7 linked regions of the Homo sapiens genome follow. Changing the gene in region 1 together with any one later gene gives a genetic interaction. Each region holds a gene or a part of one and is shown in the gene's direction. Other genes may lie near its edges. The genes, in order: ELOF1, AAAS, OR52W1, SCAF8, PHF2, LMNA and LMNB1.

Region 1 (4,621 bases):
TTATCGGGATGTAACCCCATCGTAAATCAAAGAGCATCTGTATTCGAAATACATTTCATTACAAATTATCTTCCTGAACACTCTAATGCAACAGCTCTTATCAAGGTCCGCAGGGACCAGACCCTTGCCAAACTCAACTGTCAATTCTCTTTCCTCATCTTCTTCAACTCAGGGACACGTGACACAGCTAACCCCTCTCTCTCTCCATCTTGAAATATCTTTTTCAGGCCAGGTGTGGTGGCTCATGCCTGTAATCCCAACAATTTGAGAGGCCGAGGTGGATGGATCACTTGAGGTCAGGAGTTCGAGACCAGCCTGACCAACATGGTGAAACCCCATCTCTACTAAAAATACAAAAATTAGCCAGGCATGGTAGTGCGCACCTGTAATCACAGCTACTTAAGAGGCTGAGGCAGGAGGATCGCTTGAACCCGGGAGGCTAAGGTTGCAGTGAGCCCATATGGCGTCACTGCACTCCAGCCTGGGCGACGGAGCGAAACCCTGTCTCAGAAAAAAACAAAACCAAAAATAAAAACCAATAAAAGTCCTTGGCCGGGCGCGGTGGCTCACGCCTGTAATCCCAGCACTTTGGGAGACCGAGGCGGGTGGATCGCGCCTGTAATCCCAGCACTTTGGGAGGCCGAGGCGGGTGGATCACGAGGTCAGGAGTTCAAGACCAGCCTGGCCAAGATGGTGAGACCCCATCCCTACTCAAAAAAAAAAAAAAAAAAAAAACTACAAAAATTAGCCGGGCGCGGTGACCGGCGCCTGTAATCCCAGCTACTCGGGAGGCTGAGGTAGGAGAATCACTTGAACCTGGGAGGCGGAGGTTGCAGTGGGCCGAAATCGAGCCACTGCACTCCAGCCTGGGCGACAAAGTGAGACTCCGTCTCAAAAAAATAAAATAAAATAAAACAAAAATAAAAAATAAAAATCCTTAACACGGCCCACGAGGCTCCATGGAATCTGGCCCCAGCCTGTCCACTCAACCTCATCTACTACAATCTGGGCACTCAAAATGTGGTCTGCGGATCAGCAGCATGGAAGTCACCTGGGAGCGAGTTAGAACAGCAGCCTCTCAGGCCTCCCTCTTCATCTGCTGGATCAGAACTTGAACTTTTTAGTTTGAGTAGAGCGTCTTCCATGCTTACAAGCTTCCCCTTCACCCTGATTCAGCCATAAGGTTATTTCATATTCCTCACTTGCCGCTCCTGGAAACTGACCAGAAGTACTGGCATCGCGCGTAGGTACAGGCAAATACGCACCGGCTCTTGCGCAGGCGCACTGCGTCTCCGTCGGAGCGCTGCTATTTGAGTACGCGTGCGCTCAGAGGAGCGGCGAAGGAGGCAGGGCCTATTTGCTGGGCTGTCCGGGATGGGGGTGGCCGGGACCTGAAAGTAGGAGAGGGGTTTCCGCTTCCGGCAGGAGTCGGAAGTCACTATCTCCCGGGTGAACGGAGCTTTCGCAGCTGGAGAAGGTGAGTGCTGGTGCGGCTCGTGCGAGTGGGCGTTGGGGGTGGGCAGGACTGGAAGTTCCTCTACTCCGTGCGTTTACGGGGTCCTGGAGGAGGCTCCTGGGACCTCGAGCTTGGGGGAAAGCCGGTCGGGGAGACTGACTCCCCCCGACCCCATCCTTCCAAGCGCGACTACCGGGACGCCTGGCTCCTCCCGGCGGCCGTCGGGAGGCGATGCCGAAGCTTTAGTGAGTCTGGAGGAACAGCCAACCCCCCACCTCTTGGGTACCAGCAGATTCGGGGGATGACTCCTCTGCCATCCCCTTTTGGCGCTCTTGGACTTAACGTTGTCACAGGACAGGCTGAGGCCTCTGCATTCCTTGTGCAAGCCAGACCCCATTCATGGGATGGGGAGACTGTAGTCCCTGGGCAAAATGAGCTTCTGGGGCTCATCCGTAGATTTTGTTTGGACTTTTTTTTTTTTTTTTGAGAGTGAGTCTTGCTGTGTCGCCGAGGCTGGAGTGCAGTGGCGCGATCATAGCTCATTGCAGCCTCGACCTCCTGGGCGCAAGCTTCCCACTTCAGCTTGCCGAGTAGCTGGGACTACAGACTCAAGGCTAATTTTTGTAATTTTGTAGAGATGAAGGGTCTCACTCTGTTTCCCAGGCTGGTCTGGAACTCCTGGCTTCAAGCGATCTTCCCACCTGGGCCTCCCAAAGTGATGAGATTACGGGCGTGACGTCCCAAAGTGATAGAGTTACAAGCAAACTGATTGAGTGATTTATTCAGTAATGGTTATTGCTGGGCACGGTGGCTCATGCTTGTAACGCCAGCACTTTGGGAGGCCGAGGCGGGAGTATCTCTTGAGCCCAGGAGTTCCAGACCAGGCTGGGCAACATGGTGGGTCCCTGTCTCTACAAAAAATACAAAAATTAGCTGGGCGTGGTGCCGCGGCTAATTTATATTTCAGAGGTAGAGGGGCAGGGGGAGGATCGCATAAGGAATGTGTGAGGGAAAAAGACATTGAGGATGAATCCAAGGTTTCTGATTTGATTATCCGGAAAGATGGAATTGCTGTTAGCTGAGATGAGGAAGACTGGAAGAGCAGGTTGCAATGTCAGGGGCTTGGTTTTGGACATGATATGTTTAATCTTAGGTGGAAGTTAGACATCAGGTGGAGGTGTGGCTGAGGCAGATAGATCAGAGTCTGCAGTTCAGACTCAAGGCTGGAGAAGCAGGTGGCCTCAGTGTAGAGTAGGCATGAAGCCCTAAGACTGGGTGAAATCTTCATGTGGTGAGTATAGCCAGAAAGGAGAGGATCCAACAATTAAACTCATGGGCTTTTTGCTCTGTTGCCCAGGCTGGAGTGCCTCGGCTCACTGCAACCTCCGCCTCCCAGGTTCAAGTGATTCTCCTGCCTCAGCCTCCCGAGTAGCTGGGATTACAGGCGTGCACCACCATGCCTGGCTAATTTTTGTATTTTTAGTAGAGATGGGGTTTCACCATGTTGGTCAGGCTGGTCTCGAACTCCTGACCTCGTGATCTGCCCACCTCGGCCTCCCAAAGTGCTGGGATTACAGGCGTGAACCACTGCACTCAGCCTTTTTTTTTTTTTTTTTTAGATGAAGTTTTGCTCTGTTGCCCAGGCTGGAGTGCGGTGGCACAATCTCAGCTCACTGAAACCTCCGACTCCCAGGTTCAAGCGATTCTCCTGCCTCAGCCTCTCTATTAGCTGGGATTACAGGCATGTGCCACCACGCCCAGCTAATTTTTGTATTTTTAGTAGAAATGGGGTTTCACCATGTTGGCCAGGCTGGTCTCCAACTCCTAACCTCAAGTGATCTGCCCACCTTGGCCTCCCAAAGTGCTGGGATTATAAACGTGAGCCACAGCGCCTGGCCCAAACTCACGTGCTCTCTTCATTGGAGCAAGTTGGCAGAGAGGCAGGAGCATAGGAGACTAGCAGGAGCCACCAGTGAGGCAGAGGACAGGGAGCACATGGCATCCTGAGAGCCACATGTGCTCTCAGGGGAGGAAGGACCTCTGGAATGGGAGGACTGCCATTGGGATTTGCAGTATGGAGCCACCAGTAACCTAAGTTTGGAGGCAAGGGGTGCAGAGAGATGGGTGGGAATGCAGATGGCTGTACACTAAAACAGCCTGCAGAGAAAAGGATCATAGCTGGAAGAGGATGAAGAGTTTTTTTTTCCCCCTTTTTAAATGAGGAGAGAGGTAATAACAAGTGTGTGAGAGTGATCCAGTGGAGCTGGAAAATTTGATGTTGCTCAAAGAAAAGGGGATGGGAGCCAGGGCAGAATGAACAAATTGTTTTTGCAGGAACTTACTTCCATAGTAAAGGAGGCATGCCGAAGCTGGGCATGGTGGTGCACACCTGTTGTCCCAGCTACTGAGCAGGCTGAGGCCAGAGGATTGAGGCTTTAGCAAGCTGTGATCATGCCACTGCACTCCAGCCTGGGCAACAGAGCAAGACCTCATCTCTTAGATAAATAAAGAGGGTGGGTGAATGGCTGAATGAGTTGGTCCTAGGAGCTGTCTTTGGATTGCTTCTATTTACTCAGTGAACTGGAAGCATCACAGTTAAGAGTTGGGGGTGTTGGCTGGGCGTGGTGGCTCACGCCTGTAATCCCAGCACTTTGGGAGGCCGAGACAGGCGGATCACGAGGTCAGGAGATCGAGACCATCCTGGCTAACACGGTGAAACCCCATCTCTACTAAAAATACAAAAAATTAGCCACGCGTGGTAGTGCATGCCTGTACTCCCAGCTACTCGGGAGGCTGAGGCAGGAGAATCATTTGAAGCCGGGAGGTGGAGGTTGCAGTGGGTCGAGATCATGCCACTGCACTCCAGCCTGGGCGGCAGAGCAAGACTCCATCTCAAAAAAAAAAGAAAGAGTTGGGGGTATTACATAGGAAGTGATCAGCAGATAATGAATGAAACTCCACTGTTTATTCTGGAAGACACTGGCAGGCTGCTGACCTCCCCGTCACAGTGGAACGATGCTAGAACCAGCAGTCGTGTGTGTGTGTGTTGGAGGAGGCGCCATAGGAGGCTCAGGGATGGCAAACACAGTGCCCTGAGCACCGTGCCTCGCAGGGGAGTTGGGCTCAGTGGTAACTGCTGCCGTTTCCCCACCCACCTGCCTCCTG
Region 2 (4,089 bases), on another chromosome or scaffold:
GCTCCTTGTCTCCTACTTCTGTGGCTGCTGCTTCTCAGGGTTTTTGGTGGCTCCTCTTCCTGATGTCCCTTAAATGTTGGTGTTCTTGGGGCTAGATTTCCAGTTGATGCATCAGACCTGGTGTTCACGTGTTTGCCAAATTATCCTGCTTGAATATTTCGCAGACTTCATATATTCAGCATGCTCAAATCCAGTCTCTTTATTTCTCTCTCCAAATCTGCTTCTCTGGATGGTTCACTTTAAGGAATGATCATATTACTCATTCAGGAAAAAGTGGTTTGAGTATAGGTTCTGGGGTAGATAGATGGTTGAATCCTGACTGCTACTTTCTACTTAGATTACCTTGTTCATATTAATTAGCCTCTTCACACCTTTGTTCTCTCATCTAAAAATGCAGTGATAGTCTGGGCGCGGAAGCTCATGCCTGTAATCCCAGCACTTTGGGAGGCCAAGGCGGGTGTATCACTTGAGGTCAGGAGTTCGAGACCAGCCTGGCCAATGTGGTGAAACTCCGTGTGTAATCCTAATTACTCAGGAGGCTGAGGTGCAAGAATTGCTTGCACCCAGGAGGTAGAGGTTGCAGTGAGCCGAGTTCACACCACTGCACTCCAGCCTGGGTGACAGAGTGAGACTCCGTCTTAACACACACACACACACACACACACACACGCACACACACACACACACACACTGAAACCCCATCTCTACAAAAAATTTAAAAATTAGCTGGGCATGATGGTGTGCACCCGTAGTCTCAGCTCCTCGGGAGGCCGAGGCAAGAATACCTGAGCTCAGGAGATTGAGGCTGCAGCGAGCCGTGATGGTGATATTGCACTCCAGCCTGGGTCACAGAGCAAGACCCTGTCTCAATAAAATAAAAATAAATGCAGTGATAACAATACCTATCTTGTAGGATTGTCATAATGGCTTGATTAGTTAATGTGAGGCACCTAGTCCAGAGCTGGCACATTGTAAGCATATTAGCTGATGTAATTATTACCTAGGTGTTTCTGTTGTATTGCTCTTTCCTTTACTAATGTCTGATTAGTCTTCACATCTTGTTTATGCTAATTCCTAAATCTCTCAAATCTGTCTCTTTTTCTTCATCCCCACCAGTTCAGGCCACTTTCACCTTTTTCCTAGGTTCCTGAAGTAGATTCTTTTTTTTTTTTTGAGACAGAGTCTCACTTTGTCACCCAGGCTGGAGTGCAGTGGCGTGATCTCAGCTCGCTGCAACCTCCGCCTCCTGGGTTCAAGCAATTCTTCTGCCTCAGCCTCTGAGTAGCTGGGACTACAGGTGCACACCACCACGCCTGGTTAATTTTTGTTTTGTTTTATTTTTTTGGTTTTTTTTTTTTGAGACGGAGTCTCGCTCTGTTGCCCAGGCTGGAGTGCAGTGGCACGATCTCGGCTCACTGCAAGCTTCGCCTCCCGAGTTCACTCCATTCTCGTGCCTCAGCCTCCCGAGTAGCTGGGACTACAGGCGCCCACCACCACACCTGGCTAATTTTTTGTATTTTTAGTAGAGATGGGGTTTCACCGTGTTAGCCAGGATGGTCTTGATCTCTTGACCTTGTGATCCGCCCGCCTCAGCCTCCCAAAGTGCTGGGATTACAGGTGTGAGCCACCGCACCTGGCCAATTTTTGTATTTTTAATAGAGATGAGGTTTCACCATCTTGACCAGGCTGGTCTCGAACTCCTGACCTCGTGATCCACCTGCCTTGGCCTCCCAGCGTGCTGGGATTACAGGTGTGAGCCACCGCACCCGGCCCTGAAGTAGATTCTTAACTGATTTATTTTTCTCTATTATTATTATTATTTTTTGAGACAGCATCTTGCTCTGTTGCCCAGTGTGGAGTGCAGTGGCGCAAACATGGAACACGGCTCACTGCATTGTCAGCCCCCAGGGCTCAAGTGATGCTCCTTCCTCAGCCTCCCAAGTAGCTGGGACTACAGGCATGTGCCACCACACCTGCCTAAGTTTTGTATTTTTTTTTGTAGAGACAGCATTTCCCTATGTTGCCTAGGCTGGTCTCAAGCTCTTGAGCTCAGGCGATCCACCTGCCTTGGCCTCCCAAAGTGCTAGGGTTGAGCCACTGCACCTGGACTTTTTCTATTTTTTCTCTTCTTTTTTTTTTTTTTTTTTTTTGTCTGAGATGGAGTCTTGCTCTGTTGCCCAGGCTGGAGTGTGGTGGCACGATGTTGGCTCACTGCAATCGCCACCTCCCGGGTTCAGGCGATTCTCCTGCCTCAGCCTATGGAGTAGCTGGGATTATAGGCATGGACCACCACACCTGGCTAATTTTCATATTTTTCAACATGTTTCACCATGTTGGCCAGGATGGTCTTGATCTCCTGACCTCGTGATCCGCCCACCTTGGCCTCCCAAAGTGCTGTGATTACAGGTGTGAGCCACCGCGCCTGGCCTTTTCTATTCTTTTTTTTTTTTCTTCTTTTTTGAGGCAGAGTCTCACTCTGTCGCCCAGGCTGGAGTGCAGTGGCACAATCTCGGCTTACTGCAGCCTCCGCTTCCTGGGTTCAAGTGATTCTCCTGCCCTGCCTCAGCCTCCTGAGTAGCTGGGACTACAGGTACGCACCACCACACCTGGCTAATTTCTGCATTTTTAGTAGAGACGGGGTTTTACCATGTTGGCCAGGATGGTCTCAGTTTCCTGACCTCGTGATCCACCCACCTCAGCCTCCCAAAGTGCTGGGATTATAGGCGTGAGCCACCACAGCCAGCCTGGCCTTTTCTATTCTTATCACTCTCTAATCTGCAGCCAGACTGCTCTTTCTAAAATGCTGCTGTGTGATCTGTTTATTCTTCTCCTTAGAACCCTTCCATGGCTTTCCATTCATTGTCTTAGAGCAAGTCCCAACTCCTTAACCTGCTCACAAAGCCCCAAAAGTCCTCTGAGCCTTGGTTGTCTCATCCGTAAATGGGTAGAATCTCGTTCAGATTTGTGAGATATGTAAATGAAAGGACAGCCCGTAGAGTGCCTGGTACATAGTTGGCACTCATTAAATGTGAGTGCCCATATTTTTAATACATGTATATTGAATGAATGAAACTGGTAGAGAGGGACAGAGGGGATCAGAGTAAGCTGACCCACATTTTCCTCCCTTATCAGGCGTGATGTGGGCCTTTTTGGGGTGCTAAATGAAATTGCAAACTCAGAAGAAGAGGGTAAGTATTTTTCCCTCCAGCCTTCCCTAGTTTTGTGGTTATCTCCTCTCCATATTCTTGAACTCACCCCCGACACCTGTTGGCTCAGCCTCTTTTAGCCCTATTTTTCCTGTCCTCTCCTCTACCTACCCAAATAACCCAGAGTGGGTGTCCAGAGTGGGTGTCCAGAGTGTGGTGTTGAGAGCACTTACTGGGCAGAAGGACCTGGGGAGTGCCTGTCCTTCCTTGTCTTTCACCTAGAAGGTACCTGGTAAGAGGCCTGTGAATGGTTTAATCAGAGCTGCTTCCTCAACCCTACAGTGTTTGAGTGGGTGAAGACGGCATCCGGCTGGGCCCTGGCACTCTGTCGATGGGCCTCTTCCCTCCATGGGTCCCTGTTCCCCCATCTGTCTGTAAGTTTGGCTTCCTCCCCAGCCCTCTGCATTTGCTGTGTCCCCATCCTACTCTGCCCTCATTCCTATCCTTGCAGGTCAGGGTTGGGTGTGATGACTTCAGAGGGTAGGAGTGGTCCAGCTCCCCTGTTGGAATATTGAGGAGATGGACTCCTTTTGCCCCAGTGTGTCCTGTGTCTATCTTGTTCTTACAGCTCAGGAGCGAAGATCTGATCGCTGAATTTGCCCAAGTCACAAATTGGTGAGTGCACAAGCCCTGGAGCTTTGTGGAAAGGAAGTCCTGAACCTCAAAACTCCCTTTGGGGAGAAGGCAAAGACTCCTACTCCTTTTCTGATTGCTCACCATATTCTCATTCCTCCTGTTCCCCCAAAAAAGAATACAAGAAAAAGTAGGAAAAAACCATGTCCTTACTGGAAATGAATGTGAGCTTCTGGGCTAGGGTAGGGATAGGTGCAGGAACTCTTCATGTTAACCCCTTCCTTAGGTCCAGCTGCTGCTTGCGTGTCTT
Region 3 (3,271 bases), on another chromosome or scaffold:
TTTTTGTCTCGTGGGGAATTGAGAGACAAGAAATTACAACAGAGTGGGCTAGATGCTATTAAAGAATAAACCAAGGAATTTTCTCCCGGACTTCAGTGAGCCAGCAAAGACCTCCCTGAGAAAGTGTTCCTTGCCCAGATCTTTCCACCTGATAGTCTCTTTCCTGGCTTGCCCCCATCTCTGCCTCCTTACTCTACTTCCTGAGTCACCAGCCCATCAGCACTGAGCAAAGAGATACAAAACAGAGTTAATGTGGCACAGGTGGGAGGGAGAAAGGCCCTGAGGGAAGCAGGTAGAACAGCCACATAAAGAGCCCCACAGGCACTGATTAAAGCGAAGAGAAGCTGCCAACACACAGTGCTCGAGATCTTTCCCAGTCAAGCCTTCTGCTGGTGATTTCTTCCTCATTCATTTATCCATTCAACATGTATTAAGCTTCTTAGGTGGGCTGGATCCCACCTAAGTCAATCTACTTGTCCTGCCTCCTCCAATGTCAGAGATGCTTCTTCCTCAGATGGCTGCTACTCTGAGTTGAGTGCCATTTTCTCCCTCTATGTCACCTCCACTCGCTCTGGCATGCCAGGAATGAGACTCTAGTGGGACCCACTTTTGTACCGTGAAGAAGGAAAGGAAACGGAGAAGAAAAGTCCCGTTTCGTACTGCCATCTCTCTCTCTGTTGCTTCCCAGCCCCAACTTCAACTCTCCAGCTGGTGTTCAGCATCAAGTTCAGAACGTAAGCACCCTGCACCCCAAAAACCCAGCAAGTTTTCCCTTGCCACACCAAGCTCCCAGATTCACTCCAGATTCCATCTGCCTCCCACTACGGTTTCTCCCTTTCTTTATACTCTGCCTCCTCTCTTCCTGGATGGTTGGTGCTGAGAATGGGCAATTGCTCAGAGCTGGGCAAACCTTAATATCACTGTACCCACCAGGCCTATACAGCTGAAGAAGCTGAGGTCCAGAGATCTTGCCCAAGGATACACAGGCAGGGACAGGACAGCCGGAAGCCTGATTCCCCACCCTGCCCCCAGCACTGGCTTTCTCCTCATATAGAGACTGAGACTGACTCTATTTGGACCCTGAGGAAGAAAAGTATTCATCTCCACTCCACCCTCTGCTGACATCCAATTAGAAGGCTCTCTCAGGCTATCTATACCAACCACTGCAGCAGGCAGCCTCTTCCTCACTACCCCTTCCTCCCACTACAATACATATAGACTTTTAGGAGCAAAGGATTCTCCTATCTTAGCTAGAATTGCGACCTTAATTATCCATCCAAACCCCCCTAACCAAAAGTTATAAACCTGTGATCCTCCCAGCCCTGCACTACTCCTACACGTATGCCATGGATGGGTTTGTGCCACTGTGAGACCCCCAAAATCTCTCCCCTTATCTTCCCTGTCAGGAGTCATGCCCCCATGAGCCCTCAAGTTGTGCCCACCACAGAATGGCAGAAACTCTACAACTCAATTCCACCTTCCTACACCCAAACTTCTTCATACTGACTGGCTTTCCAGGGCTAGGAAGTGCCCAGACTTGGCTGACACTGGTCTTTGGGCCCATTTATCTGCTGGCCCTGCTGGGCAATGGAGCACTGCCGGCAGTGGTGTGGATAGACTCCACACTGCACCAGCCCATGTTTCTACTGTTGGCCATCCTGGCAGCCACAGACCTGGGCTTAGCCACATCTATAGCCCCAGGGTTGCTGGCTGTGCTGTGGCTTGGGCCCCGATCTGTGCCATATGCTGTGTGCCTGGTCCAGATGTTCTTTGTACATGCACTGACTGCCATGGAATCAGGTGTGCTTTTGGCCATGGCCTGTGATCGTGCTGCGGCAATAGGGCGTCCACTGCACTACCCTGTCCTGGTCACCAAAGCCTGTGTGGGTTATGCAGCCTTGGCCCTGGCACTGAAAGCTGTGGCTATTGTTGTACCTTTCCCACTGCTGGTGGCAAAGTTTGAGCACTTCCAAGCCAAGACCATAGGCCATACCTATTGTGCACACATGGCAGTGGTAGAACTGGTGGTGGGTAACACACAGGCCACCAACTTATATGGTCTGGCACTTTCACTGGCCATCTCAGGTATGGATATTCTGGGTATCACTGGCTCCTATGGACTCATTGCCCATGCTGTGCTGCAGCTACCTACCCGGGAGGCCCATGCCAAGGCCTTTGGTACATGTAGTTCTCACATCTGTGTCATTCTGGCCTTCTACATACCTGGTCTCTTCTCCTACCTCACACACCGCTTTGGTCATCACACTGTCCCAAAGCCTGTGCACATCCTTCTCTCCAACATCTACTTGCTGCTGCCACCTGCCCTCAACCCCCTCATCTATGGGGCCCGCACCAAGCAGATCAGAGACCGACTCCTGGAAACCTTCACATTCAGAAAAAGCCCGTTGTAATGTCCAGTGGTAACAATGGAGCCTAAGAGTGGAGGTGAGGGGACAATCGGAGGGGAGTCTGGGGGTGTGGATCATGTTATTTTCATCCCACTGCATATGACTGTTATCATCATTTAACAGGTACTTGCTGTGGAGTCCCTATGTGCAACACTGGCATCTGTAGACTTTGACTTAAACATGTATTCTGCTTGGGAGGAGGCAGGAGGTAGAGGTCAGGGGGCTACACTACCATGCAGGAAAAATTAGTGAAGGACCATAATAAACAAGATCTAACAACTCCCTTTCCTGCTCCCCACCTCCATTATTTCAACCTAAGTCTGCCCACGTTTCCACACAAAAGCTCCTCTATAGATCCCAAACTTGAGGGAAGTGCTTGGCACTGCCGCAGAGGGTGGCGCTGTCCCTGGAGTCAAGTGCTTGGGCACCCGTCTGAAATCACAGCCCTCTCTACTCCTGGAGCCAGATTCTGTTTTCAGACTGCCCTCAGGAAACGAGTTCTACAGGCTCATCTCCTGCCTTCCGATAAACTAAATAATGTGCCCTGTGGTACCAATTTGGCCACTTCAAATTCAAAGAATCCTCTTTTGGTCTCATGTGTAATTACTATTCTTCCTTCCCCCAACTCCCACCAAAGCCCCCAAAATTAACAGCTGTAACTTCTTCCCCTGTGACTGCAGCTGCAGAGGTCAGGGGTCCACTGAAAGAAATGTTGATATCCCAGAAAATCACTGCAGCCACATCATCTGATTGCCTGAGGCTGAATTACTATGGTTTCTTGTCAATCTGCCCTTCTGTGCACCCTCAACAAGAAGGTATAATCCCCAGATAAAATCCCCATAGGCACCCCCATTTGTCTTGGC
Region 4 (4,089 bases), on another chromosome or scaffold:
GCCGAGCTAATTTTTGTATTTTTAGTAGATACGGGGTTTCACCTTGTTTGCCAGGCTGTTGTCAAACTCCTGACCTCAGGCGATCCCCCCACGTCAGCCTCCCAAAGTGCTGGAATTACAGGCATGAGCCACCGTGCCTGGCCAATTTTTTATTTTTATATAGAGACAGGATGTCACTATGTTGCCCAGGCTGGTCTCAGACTCCTGGCCTCAAGCAGTCCTTTCACCTGCGCCTCCCAAGTCAATGGAATTACAGGCACAAGCCATCGTGCCTGCACTAAAATCCCAAGTTTCAGCAGTCACTTCATTGGTCCTTGTATGTTCTCAGTTTGACCTATTGTTCCCTTCCCAACATTTTCTATCACCAGTTCATAGACTTCTCTAACTAATGATAAGACTTGCTTATGTTGCCCACCCCCAACCCTGGTTTTATATTATCCTTTGCTTTGCTTTCTCACCTCTTTCTCCTGTAACTTGTTCCATCCTTTTTGTTGTTTCTTAAATAAACTACCTATAATCCTGCCCCAAGATCTCTGCTTTTGAAGTTTTTTATACTGAAAACCCACTTCCCTCATATATTCATATGGTTTCATCTCTTGTCTTTGTTTAAATGTCACTTTAATAAGGCCTTCAGTGACTGCTATTTATTTATTTATTTATTTATTTAGAGACAGGGTCTTGCTCTGTCACCCAGGCTGGAGTGTAATTGGCGCAATCTCGGCTCATTGCAACCTTGGCCTCCCGGGTTCAAGCAATTCTCTTGCCTCAGCCTCCTGAGTAGCTGGGATTACAGGCTTCTGCTACCACACCCAGCTAATTTTTGTATTTTTTAGTAGAGACAAGGTTTCACCTTGTTGGCCAGGCTGGTCTCAAACTCCTGACTTTAAGTGATCCGCCCGCCTCGGCCTTCCAAAGTACTGGGATTATAGACATGAGCCACCGCACCTGGCCGTGACTGCTATTTAAAACTGTAAACTCTTACCTGTCATTGTTTACACTCCCGTTCTCTCTCGCCTCTGCTTACTTCCTTCCTTAGCACTTACTACCTTCTGTTATGTTATATAATTACTTGGTTTTTTTTCTACCTCTTCCCACTGGAATGTATGCTAAACTAGGGCAAGAATTTTTTGTGGTTGTTGACAGCTGCCTGTCCAATGTCTAGGTTGTAGATGGTGTTCAATATGTTTTTGTGGAATGAATGAATGATGTACAAAAGCATTACAGTGTTGGAGATACAAAGGATATTGTAGAGTTGAGTTGTTTGAAGGAAAAGATAGTCTGTGTAAGCTATTAATGACAAAGTTAAATGGCAGACTTAAGTGTGACCTGGGCTGTGAAAACTATAAATGGTGGGCTCAGAAATAAAAGGTTTCATTTGCTAAGCAATGGGGAATCACCAGGGACTTTTTAATGTTGAAGTCACATGATCTTAACAGTACTTTACATGGATTAGAGAGAGGAGAAGTCTAGAGACAGAATATCTTTCTTTTGGTAGTAGTGGTTTTGGAAAGGAGGGTAATGATTATGAAAAATAGTAAGGTTGTATACTTTCTGAAAATACAATAGAAAACATGGGGCCATTCTAGACTTAAAAATATTTTAAAAAACCGATGTGTACTCTTAGGTTGAATCTATTTTCTACATTTTTGAGACAGTTGGGAAACTGAATATTAGCTGTATATTAGGTGAAATTATAGAATTAGTAATTTTATTTTGTGGTAATATTTTGGAAACAATTCATAAAGCAAGTGTTCTTATTTTAAAAGATGCCTATTAAAATAAATATTTTTGACAGAAGAAACTTTGAAAGGGATAGTACAAACAGAGTCAGTAAGACAGTAATTGATAGACTGCGAAGTCAGAGTAGAGGAAGAAAATTGGATGCTCCAGTGGTTTTTTACCTGGGTGACCAAAAGAATAACAGTGCCATGGGAAAAATGGAGATGTCAAAAGGAGCAGTTAAAAAGTGTAAAGGGGAAATACGGTGTTTCTATCATTTTAATAGTTTTATAGAAAATGTTTAGTTGATAGTGAAGTGACTCTAGTTTGTTTCCTAGTGTTACTGTTTTAAGTAGGCATGAAATTACTTTACTGTCATCTTACATAGTTTTTGTGTCCTTTCATCCTAGAAGTTGAACTTCAAGAGTACAGTTGTCTTGGTTATCAGTAGCTTTGCTGTCTTTATTTTTCTCTTTTAAACTAATAATTTTTGGATTTAACTCAGGCTTATAACCAGATTGATTATCATTTATTTCTGGAATGTATATAGGGTTTTCTTATTTATAGAATCTCTTAAAGATCTCACTGTTGTGTCTGTTTTTTAACAGGGGTGGGTACATGGTGGGAACAAGAGTTGCCTTCAACTCTAGATGACACTATTATTAATAACTAGTTGCCAGACTCTACTCTGAGAAACAGATTTCTTAATGACTCTCCAACTTTCAGGAAGTACGTGCTCAGATGGTAATTCTGAATAACAGCAAAAGCTGCTGCTATTTTCAGTACTCGTCCTTTTACTGAGTTTAAAGAGTTAATTGAACAAGGTAGAGAAATTTAGTGAAAAAGGTGTCAGCTTGTGATGAGCGCTTTATCTGGTTGTCACAGATCACTTTATTTTGTTTAAAGTTCGCTGACTTTCCAGAAGTAAGACAAACTTATTAAGGACTGTGTTATATAAGGTACACAGAAAAACTTCAAAAAATTAACTTATTAATAGTGTGTATTTTTTTCAAAGAGAGTGTGGAATGATTAATTTTACTGACTAAAAGTTTTAGGTGGCCACTCTTACAGAAAAAACCCAACACCTGTTTTGTAATATATATTTTTTTCTCTCCAGCTTCAACAATTAATACAAACCTTACAGATACAACAACAGAAGCCCCAGCCTTCCATTCTGCAGGCCCTAGATGCTGGTCTTGTTGTTCAGTTGCAAGCTCTTACGGCACAACTTACAGCTGCAGCTGCAGCTGCCAACACTCTTACTCCCTTAGAACAGGGAGTCTCCTTTAACAAGGTAGAAATTAAAATATCGGATCAAGTCTATATGAATTATTAAATATTATATACTATCATGGATTTTAATTCTATAAATAAATTTTATTGTAGACTTTCAGTATCTCCTGTACACTGTATAAGACAGTCTGAATTTTACAAAAGGTTCAAACTTCTGAAAAAAATTAAGTAATTAAAAAAATTTTTCCTAGGCCAGGCACAGTGGCTCACACCTATAATCCCCAGCACTTTGGGGGAGCGCAAGGCAGGCAGATCACTTAAGGCCAGGAGTTTGAGACCAGCCTGGCAAACATGGTGAAACCCCATCTCTATTAAAAATACAAAAATTAGCCAGATGATGCGTGCCTGTAATCCCAGCTACTGGGGAGGCTGAGGAAGGAGAATTGCTTGTACCTGGGAGGTAGAGGTTGCAGTGAGCCAAGATTGAGCAACTGTTCTCCAGCCTGGGTGACAGAGAAAGACTCTTGACTCAAAAAAAAAAAATTTTTTTTGAAACATTTTTGAAACATTTAAAATATTTTCATTTGACTAAAAATAACTAGTCAGTAAAATCTTGTATTCACCACTGAGGCAAGTGATTACTTTCTGAGCTTGTCTGATTTCTTTCATGGGTGCCACATTTTACTGTGATGCTCTGGGTTCTGTAATTTGGACCTGCAAAAATTAAAATTCTTTAATCAATATGTAAAATGTTTAAAGGAAACTTCTCTACAACTAGTCACTATACTGTAACTATAATAAGTTGATGCCTAAATTATTAATAATTAAAGTGTTTCTAAAACTTAAAATCTTTCATGTACAATTTAGTGTGTGATATTCTTAGTATGCTTATTAATTATGGGAATATCATACTACTTGGAAGTGGTGTTCATATTTTTAAAATTTGTACTTTTTATAGGAAAGTAGATACTGATTTATTGGATTATTACTTAGACTGTTTTGGCCAGCAGCTTCTAAGTCTAATATAGTCTAACACTAAATAGCTAGACCACATAAAAAGCCTTTAAATTGAGCATTCAGAAGAATAACAGCATTCTAAGATGAGAACCATATTAGGAATAGATCCATTGAATATGG
Region 5 (4,089 bases), on another chromosome or scaffold:
CTGGCTGGGTCTGTGTCCTGGTGTGAGTGTGTAGGGACTGAGAAATGGCACCAGCCTCTCTGAAACTCCCATGGGGAGGGCACTCTGTGGGAGGAGCCCCTGACTCAGCCCCTGCAGTCCCAGCTTGTGTGTTCCTGGATGAGCCCTCAGCCGCTGTGCTGGGGTAGGACAGAAGAGCCTTGGGGAGAGCAAGTGACTCATGGCATGTCGCAGGTGTGAGTGTGTCACACAATAGCATGGGTTGGGTGTGAGTGTGTCACATGATGGTGTGGGGTAGCTGAGCCTTTCTGGGCTGATAGTTCCCCGCCAGCCTGGCACTGAGTGTCTCCAGCATCCTGGTGTGTGGACCGTCTTGGGCCACAGTTTGGCAGAAGCAGCATGTGACCCTCTCCTTTCTGTATCCCAGAATGCCTCCAAAGCCGTCCGACCGGAAGTGAATACTGTCGCCTCGTCAGATGAGGTGTGTGACGGGGACCGGGAGAAGGAGGAGCCCCCGTCTCCCATTGAGGCCACCCCGCCTCAATCCCTCCTGGAGAAAGTGTCCAAAAAAAAGACTCCCAAAACTGTGAAGATGCCCAAGCCATCCAAAATCCCCAAGCCCCCGAAGCCCCCTAAGCCCCCAAGGCCCCCCAAAACGCTGAAGCTCAAAGATGGAGGCAAGAAGAAAGGGAAGAAGTCCCGGGAGTCAGCCTCACCCACCATCCCCAACCTGGACCTGCTCGAAGCCCACACCAAGGAGGCACTGACCAAGATGGAGCCGCCCAAGAAGGGCAAGGTGGGACCCCCTCACCCTGACTCCCCACCTTATCACCAGAGGTGCTGCAGCATCTCTTGTGGGCCAGTCCCATGGAGATAGCTAGGGCCCATTGTCCTTGTTCCCCAGGGGCCCCTGAGAAGATGTGGGGGTCTGGGCTCTTGCTGTGGGCTTGTATGCCCAGAAGATGCACTTCCTTGCCTGGTCCTGACCCAGTCCTGCAGCATCCAGGCCCAGACCCCCCAGAGTGGACAGGCTTTGCCCAACAAGCCACAGAGCAGTGGGCCTGAAGAGGGTCCCTCACTGAGGAAGGCAACACAATGTGTGTGTGCTGTGGCAGAGGTGGCACCCAAGAGGGCCACCTGGTGGAGGAGGCATGGTGGTTTTCCAGAAGGGGATGTCTAGTTTAGGTTTCCTAGCCAGATGAGCAGTTGCCAGGGGACAAAGAAGCCCTGGGTCCTCCCTGGGGCCAAGACATTGAGGTTGAAACCTGAAGGTAGATGAGGTGTCTGTGCAGAAACAACAGGGAGAATGCCATTGGAGGGGAGGGGGTTCAGGGGTGAGGACAAGAGCAGGGTGGCCCTGATAGTCTGAGCCCCTGTGGACAGTGAAGAGATGGGCCCAGCCCTGAAGACCCACTCTGACTAGAGGATCTTAGGTCTGGGCTTCAGGGACCATGAACCCCTGAAGCACCATTGAGTGTGAGTTTCTGCCAGGAGGAGGTCGTTATCTGCTTCCTGGGGGCCAGGAAACTTCAGGGCCGGCATCACAGGGGTGTAGTGGGACGCTTTTGTGTTCTCTTTCTCAGGGCAAGCATGAATGAATGCATGAGCAAATGAATGGATGGCTAAATGGCTGGATGAATGGGTGAATGAATGAATAGGTGGATGAATGGATGGATGAATGGATGAACAGACGGATGGATGAATGAATGAATCAGTGAATGGCTGGATAGATGGATGGTTGAATGGATTAACGAATGGATGAATAGATGAATGAATAGATGGCTACATGAACGAATTGATGGATGGGTGGATGGATGGATGAATAAATGGATGGATGGGTGAATGGGTGGATGGATGGATGGAAGGACGAATAAATGAATGGGTGGGTAGATGAATGGAATAATGAATGAATGGGTAGATGAATGGATGAATGGATGGATGGATGGAATAATGAAGGGATGGATGGATGAGTGGGTAGATGGATGGATGAGTGCATAAGATGGATGGGTAGATGGATAGATGAATGGATGCATGGGTGGATAGATGAAAGAATGGTTGGATGGTTGGGTGGATGGATGGATTGATGAATAAATGGATGGATGGATGAGCAAATGGATGGATGGATGGAATGGATGGGTAGATGGATAGATGAATGAAAAAATGGATGGATGGATGAATAAATGGATAGATGAATGGATGGAAAGGTGGATGAACAAACAAATGGATGGGTGGATAAATGAATGGATGGATGGGTAGATGATGAATGAATCAACAAATGGTGAGTGGATGGATGAGTGGATGGATGGTTGGGTGGATGAATGGATGGATGAACAAATGGGTGGGTGGATGAATAAATGGATGAATGAATGGATGGATGGATGGATGGATAGACAGAGGAATGAATAGATGGATGGATGAATGAATGGGTGAGCAGATACATGGATGGATAGATGAACAAATGGATGGGTGGATAGGTGGGTGAATGGACTGATCGATGGATAAATGAATGGATGGGTAGATGGATGAATGGGTGGATGATTGAGTGAGTGGATGGGTGGATGAATTAATGAATGAACAAATGGATGGATGGATGAATGGATGAGTGGATGGGGAGATGGATAAATGGATGAGTGGATGGATGGATGGAAGGATAGATGAAAAAATGGATGGATGGATAAATGGATGGGTAGATGGATAAATAAATGGATGAGTGGATGGATGAATGGGTGGGTGGATGAATGGGATGAACGAATGGATGGATGGGTGGGCGGATGGATGGATGGATGGATGGATGGATGGATGGATGGATGAACAAATGCATGGTGCATGGATGGATGAATGAACGAATGGGTGAGTGGATGGATGGATTGGTGGATGAATGAACGGGATGAATGAATGGATGAATGGGTTGGCAGATGAATGAACGGATGGATGGATGAACGAATGAATGAATAAATGGATGGATGGATGGGTGGGTGAATGGGTACATCGATGGGTGGGTGAATGGATGCGTGGATGGGTAGATGGATGGAGGCTTGAGCTGCAAGCACATGGGCCAGAAGAAGACAGGGAATCTGTGGCTCAAGAGAGTTCCACCAGCCCTCTATGTCTGCCTCTGGGTCACAGCAGCCCTTTTTTCTAGGCCACAAAGAGTGTCCTGAGTGTGCCCAACAAAGATGTGGTTCACATGCAGAATGATGTGGAGAGGCTGGAAATTCGAGAGCAAACCAAGAGCAAGTCAGAGGCCAAGTGGAAGTACAAGGTGAGAAGTGCACATATGCATGCACACGTGTGTGTGTCAGCTTGGTGAGTGTGAGCAGAGGTGAATCTGTGAGGCCCTGTGTGTGTGAAGGAATGTGCAGACATGTGTCTGCTTGTCCTGAGTAGGTAGTGCTGTGGGGTGTGCTTACGTGGGTCTGAGGTGTGTGTGACCACCCATGGACTACATCTTCCTCTGAGTTGGTTGGGATGCAAGAGGTTGAATGTACACCCTGTATGTTGACAGTGTTTCCCTTCACGGTCCACACACTGGTTTTCATTCCCACTCCATGGGGGTCAGGCAACATCGAGGCACTGAGTCCATGGGGTGCAGGCCCCTGAGCACCCCGCAGTGGCCCGGGTGGCCACCAGAGCTATGGGTGACTTTCCTTAGTCGTGTTCCCAGTAGCTGCCTCTTCTCACTGACACTAATTGGGGTCCTGACCCCCCACTTCTGTGTGGGGCTCAGGGACGGCCCTGGTCTTGCTTTTCAGAACAGCAAACCTGACTCCTTACTGAAGATGGAAGAGGAGCAGAAGCTAGAGAAGTCGCCTCTAGCTGGAAACAAAGACAATAAGTTCTCTTTTTCTTTCTCCAACAAGAAACTCCTCGGGTATGTGAGTGCCTGGATGGGAGGGGTGACCTCGCGCATAACCGACATCACACACACCATACATACTGCATCACACCCACTGCCTTATACCACACACACATTACACACACACTATGCATGCACTCTGCATCTCACACACACCACACACTGCATCACACACAACCATACACACTGCACATCACGTACCCCATAAACACACAGCCTTTGGCTGACACACCTCTGGGGACTCCTCTCCCTCT
Region 6 (3,500 bases), on another chromosome or scaffold:
GAGAGGAACAGCAACCTGGTGGGGGCTGCCCACGAGGAGCTGCAGCAGTCGCGCATCCGCATCGACAGCCTCTCTGCCCAGCTCAGCCAGCTCCAGAAGCAGGTGATACCCCACCTCACCCCTCTCTCCAGGGGCCTAGAGTCTGGGCCGGATGCAGGCTGGAAGCCCAGGGTTGGGGGTGGGGGTGGGGGTGGGAGGTTCCTGAGGAGGAGAGGGATGAAAAGTGTCCCCACAACCACAGAGAAGGGTCGCAGGATGTGGAGTCAGATGGCCTGTGTGCTGTTTCTGTACACTCTTACCTCACCTTCACTTCTCAGGGCTTTGGTTTTCCCATTCGAAAATGGAGGCTGTTCTTAATCTCCCTAACTCAGAGTTGCCACAGGACTCTGCAATGTGAGGTGTTAAAAGCATCAGTATTTTTCTAGTTGGCTGTGCTATTTGTGACAGGAGAAAAAGTCTAGCCTCAGAACGAGAGGTTTCAGTTAGACAAGGGGAAGGACTTCCCAGTTGCCAGCCAAGACTATGTTTAGAGCTTGTGATGTTCAGAGCTGGCTCTGATGAGGGCTCTGGGGAAGCTCTGATTGCAGATCCTGGAGAGAGTAGCCAGGTGTCTCCTACACCGACCCACGTCCCTCCTTCCCCATACTTAGGGCCCTTGGGAGCTCACCAAACCCTCCCACCCCCCTTCAGCTGGCAGCCAAGGAGGCGAAGCTTCGAGACCTGGAGGACTCACTGGCCCGTGAGCGGGACACCAGCCGGCGGCTGCTGGCGGAAAAGGAGCGGGAGATGGCCGAGATGCGGGCAAGGATGCAGCAGCAGCTGGACGAGTACCAGGAGCTTCTGGACATCAAGCTGGCCCTGGACATGGAGATCCACGCCTACCGCAAGCTCTTGGAGGGCGAGGAGGAGAGGTGGGCTGGGGAGACGTCGGGGAGGTGCTGGCAGTGTCCTCTGGCCGGCAACTGGCCTTGACTAGACCCCCACTTGGTCTCCCTCTCCCCAGGCTACGCCTGTCCCCCAGCCCTACCTCGCAGCGCAGCCGTGGCCGTGCTTCCTCTCACTCATCCCAGACACAGGGTGGGGGCAGCGTCACCAAAAAGCGCAAACTGGAGTCCACTGAGAGCCGCAGCAGCTTCTCACAGCACGCACGCACTAGCGGGCGCGTGGCCGTGGAGGAGGTGGATGAGGAGGGCAAGTTTGTCCGGCTGCGCAACAAGTCCAATGAGGTAGGCTCCTGCTCAGGGTCTAAGGGGATACAGCTGCATCAGGGAGAGAGTGGCAAGACAGAAGGATGGCATGTGGAGAGAGGAACATCCTTGCCCTCAGAGGGTGGACCAGGGTGAGCCTGTATATCTCCTCCACACTCTGGTTCCAGGCCTGGCTCCTGGACTCTTTGGCTGTGAGACCTTGAGCAGGTTATTTAACCTCTCAGAGCATCAGTTTCCTCATCTGTAAAATGGGGATGAATACTGATCCCTAAGTCTTTGAGTTGTCAGGAAGATGAAAGATAAGGTATCCGTGTGCCTGGTGCTGCGTATGTGTCCACAGATCATGGCTATTATCCCCGGGGGAAGGGCAGTGACAGGGGTGTGTGTAGATGGAAGGAGAGGCCTCAATTGCAGGCAGGCAGAGGGCTGGGCCTTTGAGCAAGATACACCCAAGAGCCTGGGTGAGCCTCCCCGACCTTCCTCTTCCCTATCTTCCCGGCAGGACCAGTCCATGGGCAATTGGCAGATCAAGCGCCAGAATGGAGATGATCCCTTGCTGACTTACCGGTTCCCACCAAAGTTCACCCTGAAGGCTGGGCAGGTGGTGACGGTGAGTGGCAGGGCGCTTGGGACTCTGGGGAGGCCTTGGGTGGCGATGGGAGCGCTGGGGTAAGTGTCCTTTTCTCCTCTCCAGATCTGGGCTGCAGGAGCTGGGGCCACCCACAGCCCCCCTACCGACCTGGTGTGGAAGGCACAGAACACCTGGGGCTGCGGGAACAGCCTGCGTACGGCTCTCATCAACTCCACTGGGGAAGTAAGTAGGCCTGGGCCTGGCTGCTTGCTGGACGAGGCTCCCCCTGATGGCCAACATCGGAGCCAGCTGCCCCCAACCCAAGTTTGCCAATTCAGGGCCCCTTTCTAGAGCTCTCTGTTGCAGGCTCCAGACTTCTCCACCCAGTAGGCAAACCAAAAGATGCTTCCTCAACAGCACAAGGGGTGGAAGTTAGACAGTGAGGATTGTTAAAGGCAGAGCCATACTCCTACCCGGAGAGCTTGACAGTGTCCCTCTGGGGTGGAAATGAGTTCCTTAGCTCCATCACCACAGAGGACAGAGTAAGCAGCAGGCCGGACAAAGGGCAGGCCACAAGAAAAGTTGCAGGTGGTCACTGGGGTAGACATGCTGTACAACCCTTCCCTGGCCCTGACCCTTGGACCTGGTTCCATGTCCCCACCAGGAAGTGGCCATGCGCAAGCTGGTGCGCTCAGTGACTGTGGTTGAGGACGACGAGGATGAGGATGGAGATGACCTGCTCCATCACCACCACGTGAGTGGTAGCCGCCGCTGAGGCCGAGCCTGCACTGGGGCCACCCAGCCAGGCCTGGGGGCAGCCTCTCCCCAGCCTCCCCGTGCCAAAAATCTTTTCATTAAAGAATGTTTTGGAACTTTACTCGCTGGCCTGGCCTTTCTTCTCTCTCCTCCCTATACCTTGAACAGGGAACCCAGGTGTCTGGGTGCCCTACTCTGGTAAGGAAGGGAGTGGGAACTTTCTGATGCCATGGAATATTCCTGTGGGAGCAGTGGACAAGGGTCTGGATTTGTCTTCTGGGAAAGGGAGGGGAGGACAGACGTGGGGCATGCCCGCCCTGCCTCTCTCCCCCATTCTTGTTGCATGCATATCCTCTCATTTCCCTCATTTTTCCTGCAAGAATGTTCTCTCTCATTCCTGACCGCCCCTCCACTCCAATTAATAGTGCATGCCTGCTGCCCTACAAGCTTGCTCCCGTTCTCTCTTCTTTTCCTCTTAAGCTCAGAGTAGCTAGAACAGAGTCAGAGTCACTGCTCTGGTTCTCTGTCCCCAAGTCTTCCTGAGCCTTCTCCCCTTTTATGTCTTCCCTCTCCTCCTCCGGGCCCCTAGCCTCCCAAACCCCCATTGCCCGCTGGCTCCTTGGGCACAGAACCACACCTTCCTGCCTGGCGGCTGGGAGCCTGCAGGAGCCTGGAGCCTGGTTGGGCCTGAGTGGTCAGTCCCAGACTCGCCGTCCCGCCTGAGCCTTGTCTCCCTTCCCAGGGCTCCCACTGCAGCAGCTCGGGGGACCCCGCTGAGTACAACCTGCGCTCGCGCACCGTGCTGTGCGGGACCTGCGGGCAGCCTGCCGACAAGGCATCTGCCAGCGGCTCAGGAGCCCAGGTGGGCGGACCCATCTCCTCTGGCTCTTCTGCCTCCAGTGTCACGGTCACTCGCAGCTACCGCAGTGTGGGGGGCAGTGGGGGTGGCAGCTTCGGGGACAATC
Region 7 (4,089 bases), on another chromosome or scaffold:
GAGGTCATGCCACTGCACACCAGCCTGGGCGACAGAGTGAGACTCTGTCTCCAAAAAAAGGGATGAATAATAGTAATAATAATAAACAGAAATGCTGTCTCTTTTTTTTTTCTTTTTTGAGACAGTCTTGCTGTGACACTGGAGTGCAGTGGCGTGATCTCGGCTCACTGCAACCTCAATGCAAGCCATTCTTCTGCCTCAGCCTCCTGAGTAGCTGGGATTACAGGCACGTGCCATCATGGCCAGCTAATTTTTGTATTTTTAGTAGAGACGGGGTTTCACCATGTTGGTCAGGCTGGTCTCTAACTCCTGACCTCGGGTGATCTGCCTGCCTTGGCCTCCCAAAGTGCTGGGATTACAGGTGTGAGCCACTGCGCCTGGCAAGAAATGCTGTCTCTTAAGCAAAGAAAAGGTCCCTCTCCCCCGCATTTGGTGATTTTAAGTGTGTTTTTTAACTTAAACTACTATTGTTTTTAGGAGGTTGCTCAAAGAAGTACAGTCTTTAAAACAACCATACCTGAAGAAGAGGAGGAGGAGGAAGAAGCAGCTGGAGTGGTTGTTGAGGAAGAACTTTTCCACCAGCAGGTATTACTTTATTTATTTAATATATTTATTTCAAATTTTATTCACAGAATTACATGAAGACCAAGAGTGTGGTTGGGTTTTTCCCCTATCAGTTGATGAACCAGCGCAGTTATCTACCAAGTGGGGTTTGTACTCCCCAAAGGGATATTCAAGGTGATACTTTAGGGTACTGGAAGAATATGTTGGCACTTTTATTTTTATTTTTTCTCATTGTACCAAGTTTCAGTTTTGTCCTTTGTTTTCTAATGTGCATTATGTGTTACAGTAAAACATGTCTATGGATTGGATGTTTACTCCAAACTTGTTTACTCTGTAGGGTCCTATGATTAAAAGGTTTAGATCACTAATTTAGAGCAAGAATCTGCATATAAACTTTAAAAAAACAAAGTAATATTCAACTTCAGTGTGAAACAAAATTCTTGCTGTATTAAGTTCCTAATCATTATCTAATTGAAGATAGATTTTGGCTGATGGTTGGGCTTTTGAGAGCCCTTGAAATAAAGAAACTCCAAATTTGGTTTTAATTATAATTAAATTGGAATTATTAATAACTAATGAGCCTTCAGTTTATATTCTCAAGCTGTTTGAGTCCGATCATTAATCAAAGTGTCTACCCTTATCCTGATAAGACTTTGTTTCCATGGCTCCAGATTTTTAGTCTTAAGTCTGCTTTGCTTCATTAGCCCTAGTCCTGGTCTAAATAAACACTGTCTCATATATTTAACCCCCAGGGTTGAGAACCACTTGAGGTGGGTTGCATGAAGTAGCATGAATTTTTTACCTGGATGCCTTCTCATACATTTTGGAGGAATATTTTAAAACACATATGTTACACTTAACTTACAAGAAACAAGCACAAGTTCCATTTTCTGTGCTTCAATGGGAACCATCGTAATTACTAGAAGTAAAATAATTATGTAAGAGATAACTCAAGGCACCAGACAAGAGGGTCAGCATGAGTTATATAGCATGTCAGATGCTAGAGGAGGTACTCCAGGCCAGCAGAGTAGTTGAGAAGAACTCTGTGAGGTGATGCTTGTCCACTAATTTGAAGGATGGGTGATTATTTGGTTATTGGAGAGAAGGCAGATGATGGTGCTCTGAGGATGTTGGAATTCACCATTGCTTCACTAACAGACCACCCCAAAGCTTAGTGGCTTAAAACAGTGATTTCTTACTTCCCATAATTCTGTGGTTTGACTGGGCTCAGCTGGGCAGTGTTTCTGTTCCACATGCTGCAGACTGAACTCAATCGAGCAGGCTGTGTTCAGCTCAGAGGTTGGCCTCGGCTGGAATATCTTTTAGGTCTCTTTCTGTGTGGATTTCTATGATTTAAGAGTTTAGTCAAAGCTTTATAGCATGGCAATTGTCTAACAGAGTAAGTGGAGGGTACAGGTTTCTTTCTTTTTTCTTTTTTTTTTTTGAGATAGAGTCTTGCTGTGTCGCCAGGCTGGAGCGCAGTGGCGCAATCTCAGCTCACCGCAACCTCCACCTCCCAGGTTCAAGAGATACCCCTGCCTCAGTCTCCCAAGTAGCTGGGATTACAGGCATGCGCCACCACGCCTGGCTAATTTTTTATATTGTAGTAGAGATGGAGTTTCACCATGTTGGCCACGACAATCTCAATCTCAAGAGAGTACCAGGTTTCTTAAAGGGCCCTTTGTAACATTCTCTTAGTCAAAGTCATGAGGCCAGTCCAGATTCAAAGTGGGGGTAAATAGTCTCCACCTGTTGGTGGGAGGAATGGCAAAGAATTCATGGTGATCTTTAACTCACTACAGAGGATGTGTAAAGAATGTGGCCGGGCACGGTGGCTTACGCCTGTAATCCCAGCAGTTTGGGAGGCAGGCAGATCACAAGGTCAGGAGATCGAGACCATCCTGGCTAACACGGTGAAACCCCGTCTCTACTAAAAATACAAAAAATTAGCCGGGCGTGGTGGCGGGAGCCTGTAGTCCCAGCTACTCGGGAGGCTGAGGCAGGAGAATGGCGTGAACCCGGGAGGCGGAGCTTGCAGTGAGCTGAGATGGCGCCACTGCACTCCAGCTTGGGTGACAGAGTGAGACTCTGCCTCATAAAAAAAGACTTAATGCACCAACTATATCCGCTCATCCAGTTATTTTGTAGGGTTCATGTGAGAGTTAAATGAAGTTGAAAGATTGGAATTAAACTGACATAGTCTGGAATGCTTAGGGATGTAGCTTCTGTACAATTTGGAACAAAGGAGAAGTTAAGACTGCATTTTAAAATATCACTGGCCAAGCTGAATCAGAGGGACTAACTCTAGAGAGGAGATTCCAGAGGCAGTGAGGGAATATATAATGGAAATTTATTAAGGCTTAGTGACTAAACTTGAGGGTGAGAGAAGAAAAAAAATAAAGATGTATGAGGTTTTTAGCTTTTGTGATCACAGAAACTAATGATACCAAGGTTCATAAGAGGGAAGATGGAAGGGCAGAACAGGCGTTTGAACTTCATATTTGAGGATGAATCCAATCGCCTTTTGAATTGATTAGAAATATTTTGGTGACCTTCAAAAAACCAGTTTTAGTTCAATCAGTGGTGAGTCACAAGTCATATTGTGAGGTTATATGAAATTAATGAGTGATAAAGAAATGGGTAGAGGAGCCATGTTGACTTCACCTTGGAGGACAAATCCACTGCAGATGGCTTGGGATGTGTAAGTTCAGGATCTAGCAAGCTGTAGTCTCCGATGTGGTTGTTAAAAGCTGATCCACTGATCTCCTATTTCCTAAGTTATCAAAAGAGGTTATTGAACAATGGTTTTCAAATTGAGCTGCACATTAGAATTACTTTAAAATTATATATAGATAGCTACCCTTTCCCAGTAAAATGAGAAATTCTTATTTGATTGATCAAGGGACCTAGATCAGAATTTGTTTTAAACTCCTCAGGATCTGAATGTGTAGCCAGAGTTGACAATTACTGTTCTGGAATTTGTTGGGGGGTATTCTAGAAAGAAGTCCATAAAAGAAGGTTAGAGGCCAGATACGGTGGCTCACGCCTGTAATCCCAGCACTTTGGGAGGCCAAGGGCAGGTGGATCACTTGAGGCCAGGAGTTCAAGACCAGCCTGGCTAACGTGGTGGTGATGCACACCTGTAGTCGCAGCTGCTCGGGAGGCTGAGGCATGAGAATCGCTTGAACCCAGGAGGTAGAGGTTGCAGTGAGCCAAGATTGCACCACTGCACTCCAGCCTGGGCAACAGAGTGAGACTCTATCTCAAACAAACAAAGAAAAAGAAAAAAAGAAAAGGTTAGAAAAGATGAGAGATGATAAAGGGTCCATTTGAGGTTAGGTAATATGGTTTGGTATCCCTGTAGTTAAAAGTTTTTGTCTTATTTTAGAATACTGTGATCTATTTCTTTAGTATTAATTTTTCCTTCTGTTTTCCTCATCAGGGAACCCCAAGAGCATCCAATAGAAGCTGTGCAATTATGTAAAATTTTCAACTGTCTTCCTCAAAATAAAGAAGTATGGTAAT

Evidence for each region.
Region 2: changes in ELOF1 (region 1) and AAAS together harm fitness more than expected from each alone (negative genetic interaction), as found in Homo sapiens cells (one large-scale study listed by BioGRID).
Region 3: changes in ELOF1 (region 1) and OR52W1 together harm fitness more than expected from each alone (negative genetic interaction), as found in Homo sapiens cells (one large-scale study listed by BioGRID).
Region 4: changes in ELOF1 (region 1) and SCAF8 together harm fitness more than expected from each alone (negative genetic interaction), as found in Homo sapiens cells (one large-scale study listed by BioGRID).
Region 5: changes in ELOF1 (region 1) and PHF2 together harm fitness more than expected from each alone (negative genetic interaction), as found in Homo sapiens cells (one large-scale study listed by BioGRID).
Region 6: changes in ELOF1 (region 1) and LMNA together harm fitness more than expected from each alone (negative genetic interaction), as found in Homo sapiens cells (one large-scale study listed by BioGRID).
Region 7: changes in ELOF1 (region 1) and LMNB1 together harm fitness more than expected from each alone (negative genetic interaction), as found in Homo sapiens cells (one large-scale study listed by BioGRID).

Annotation. Positions count from the first base shown.
Region 1 is NC_000019.10:11,556,047-11,560,667, reverse strand, and holds the start of ELOF1 (transcription elongation factor 1 homolog), read left to right. Parts: upstream 1-1,437; 5' UTR 1,438-1,477; intron 1,478-4,621. UniProt on the Homo sapiens protein: Factor involved in transcription-coupled nucleotide excision repair (TC-NER), a mechanism that rapidly removes RNA polymerase II-blocking lesions from the transcribed strand of active genes.
Region 2 is NC_000012.12:53,314,826-53,318,914, reverse strand, and holds part of AAAS (aladin), read left to right. Parts: intron 1-3,132; coding exon 3,133-3,188; intron 3,189-3,488; coding exon 3,489-3,580; intron 3,581-3,774; coding exon 3,775-3,821; intron 3,822-4,065; coding exon 4,066-4,089. UniProt on the Homo sapiens protein: Plays a role in the normal development of the peripheral and central nervous system.
Region 3 is NC_000011.10:6,197,776-6,201,046, forward strand, and holds OR52W1 (olfactory receptor 52W1), read left to right. Parts: upstream 1-1,448; coding exon 1,449-2,411; downstream 2,412-3,271. UniProt on the Homo sapiens protein: Odorant receptor.
Region 4 is NC_000006.12:154,799,135-154,803,223, forward strand, and holds part of SCAF8 (SR-related and CTD-associated factor 8), read left to right. Parts: intron 1-2,836; coding exon 2,837-3,013; intron 3,014-4,089. UniProt on the Homo sapiens protein: Anti-terminator protein required to prevent early mRNA termination during transcription. Together with SCAF4, acts by suppressing the use of early, alternative poly(A) sites, thereby preventing the accumulation of non-functional truncated proteins.
Region 5 is NC_000009.12:93,659,786-93,663,874, forward strand, and holds part of PHF2 (lysine-specific demethylase PHF2), read left to right. Parts: intron 1-406; coding exon 407-775; intron 776-3,121; coding exon 3,122-3,241; intron 3,242-3,731; coding exon 3,732-3,850; intron 3,851-4,089. UniProt on the Homo sapiens protein: Lysine demethylase that demethylates both histones and non-histone proteins. Enzymatically inactive by itself, and becomes active following phosphorylation by PKA: forms a complex with ARID5B and mediates demethylation of methylated ARID5B.
Region 6 is NC_000001.11:156,135,211-156,138,710, forward strand, and holds part of LMNA (lamin), read left to right. Parts: coding exon 1-102; intron 103-650; coding exon of another isoform or gene 651-690; coding exon 691-911; intron 912-1,003; coding exon 1,004-1,226; intron 1,227-1,710; coding exon 1,711-1,818; intron 1,819-1,902; coding exon 1,903-2,022; intron 2,023-2,443; coding exon 2,444-2,533; coding exon of another isoform or gene 2,534-2,554; exon of another isoform or gene 2,555-2,656; intron 2,657-3,277; coding exon 3,278-3,500.
Region 7 is NC_000005.10:126,832,217-126,836,305, forward strand, and holds part of LMNB1 (lamin-B1), read left to right. Parts: intron 1-477; coding exon 478-585; intron 586-4,006; coding exon 4,007-4,048; 3' UTR 4,049-4,089. UniProt on the Homo sapiens protein: Lamins are intermediate filament proteins that assemble into a filamentous meshwork, and which constitute the major components of the nuclear lamina, a fibrous layer on the nucleoplasmic side of the inner nuclear membrane.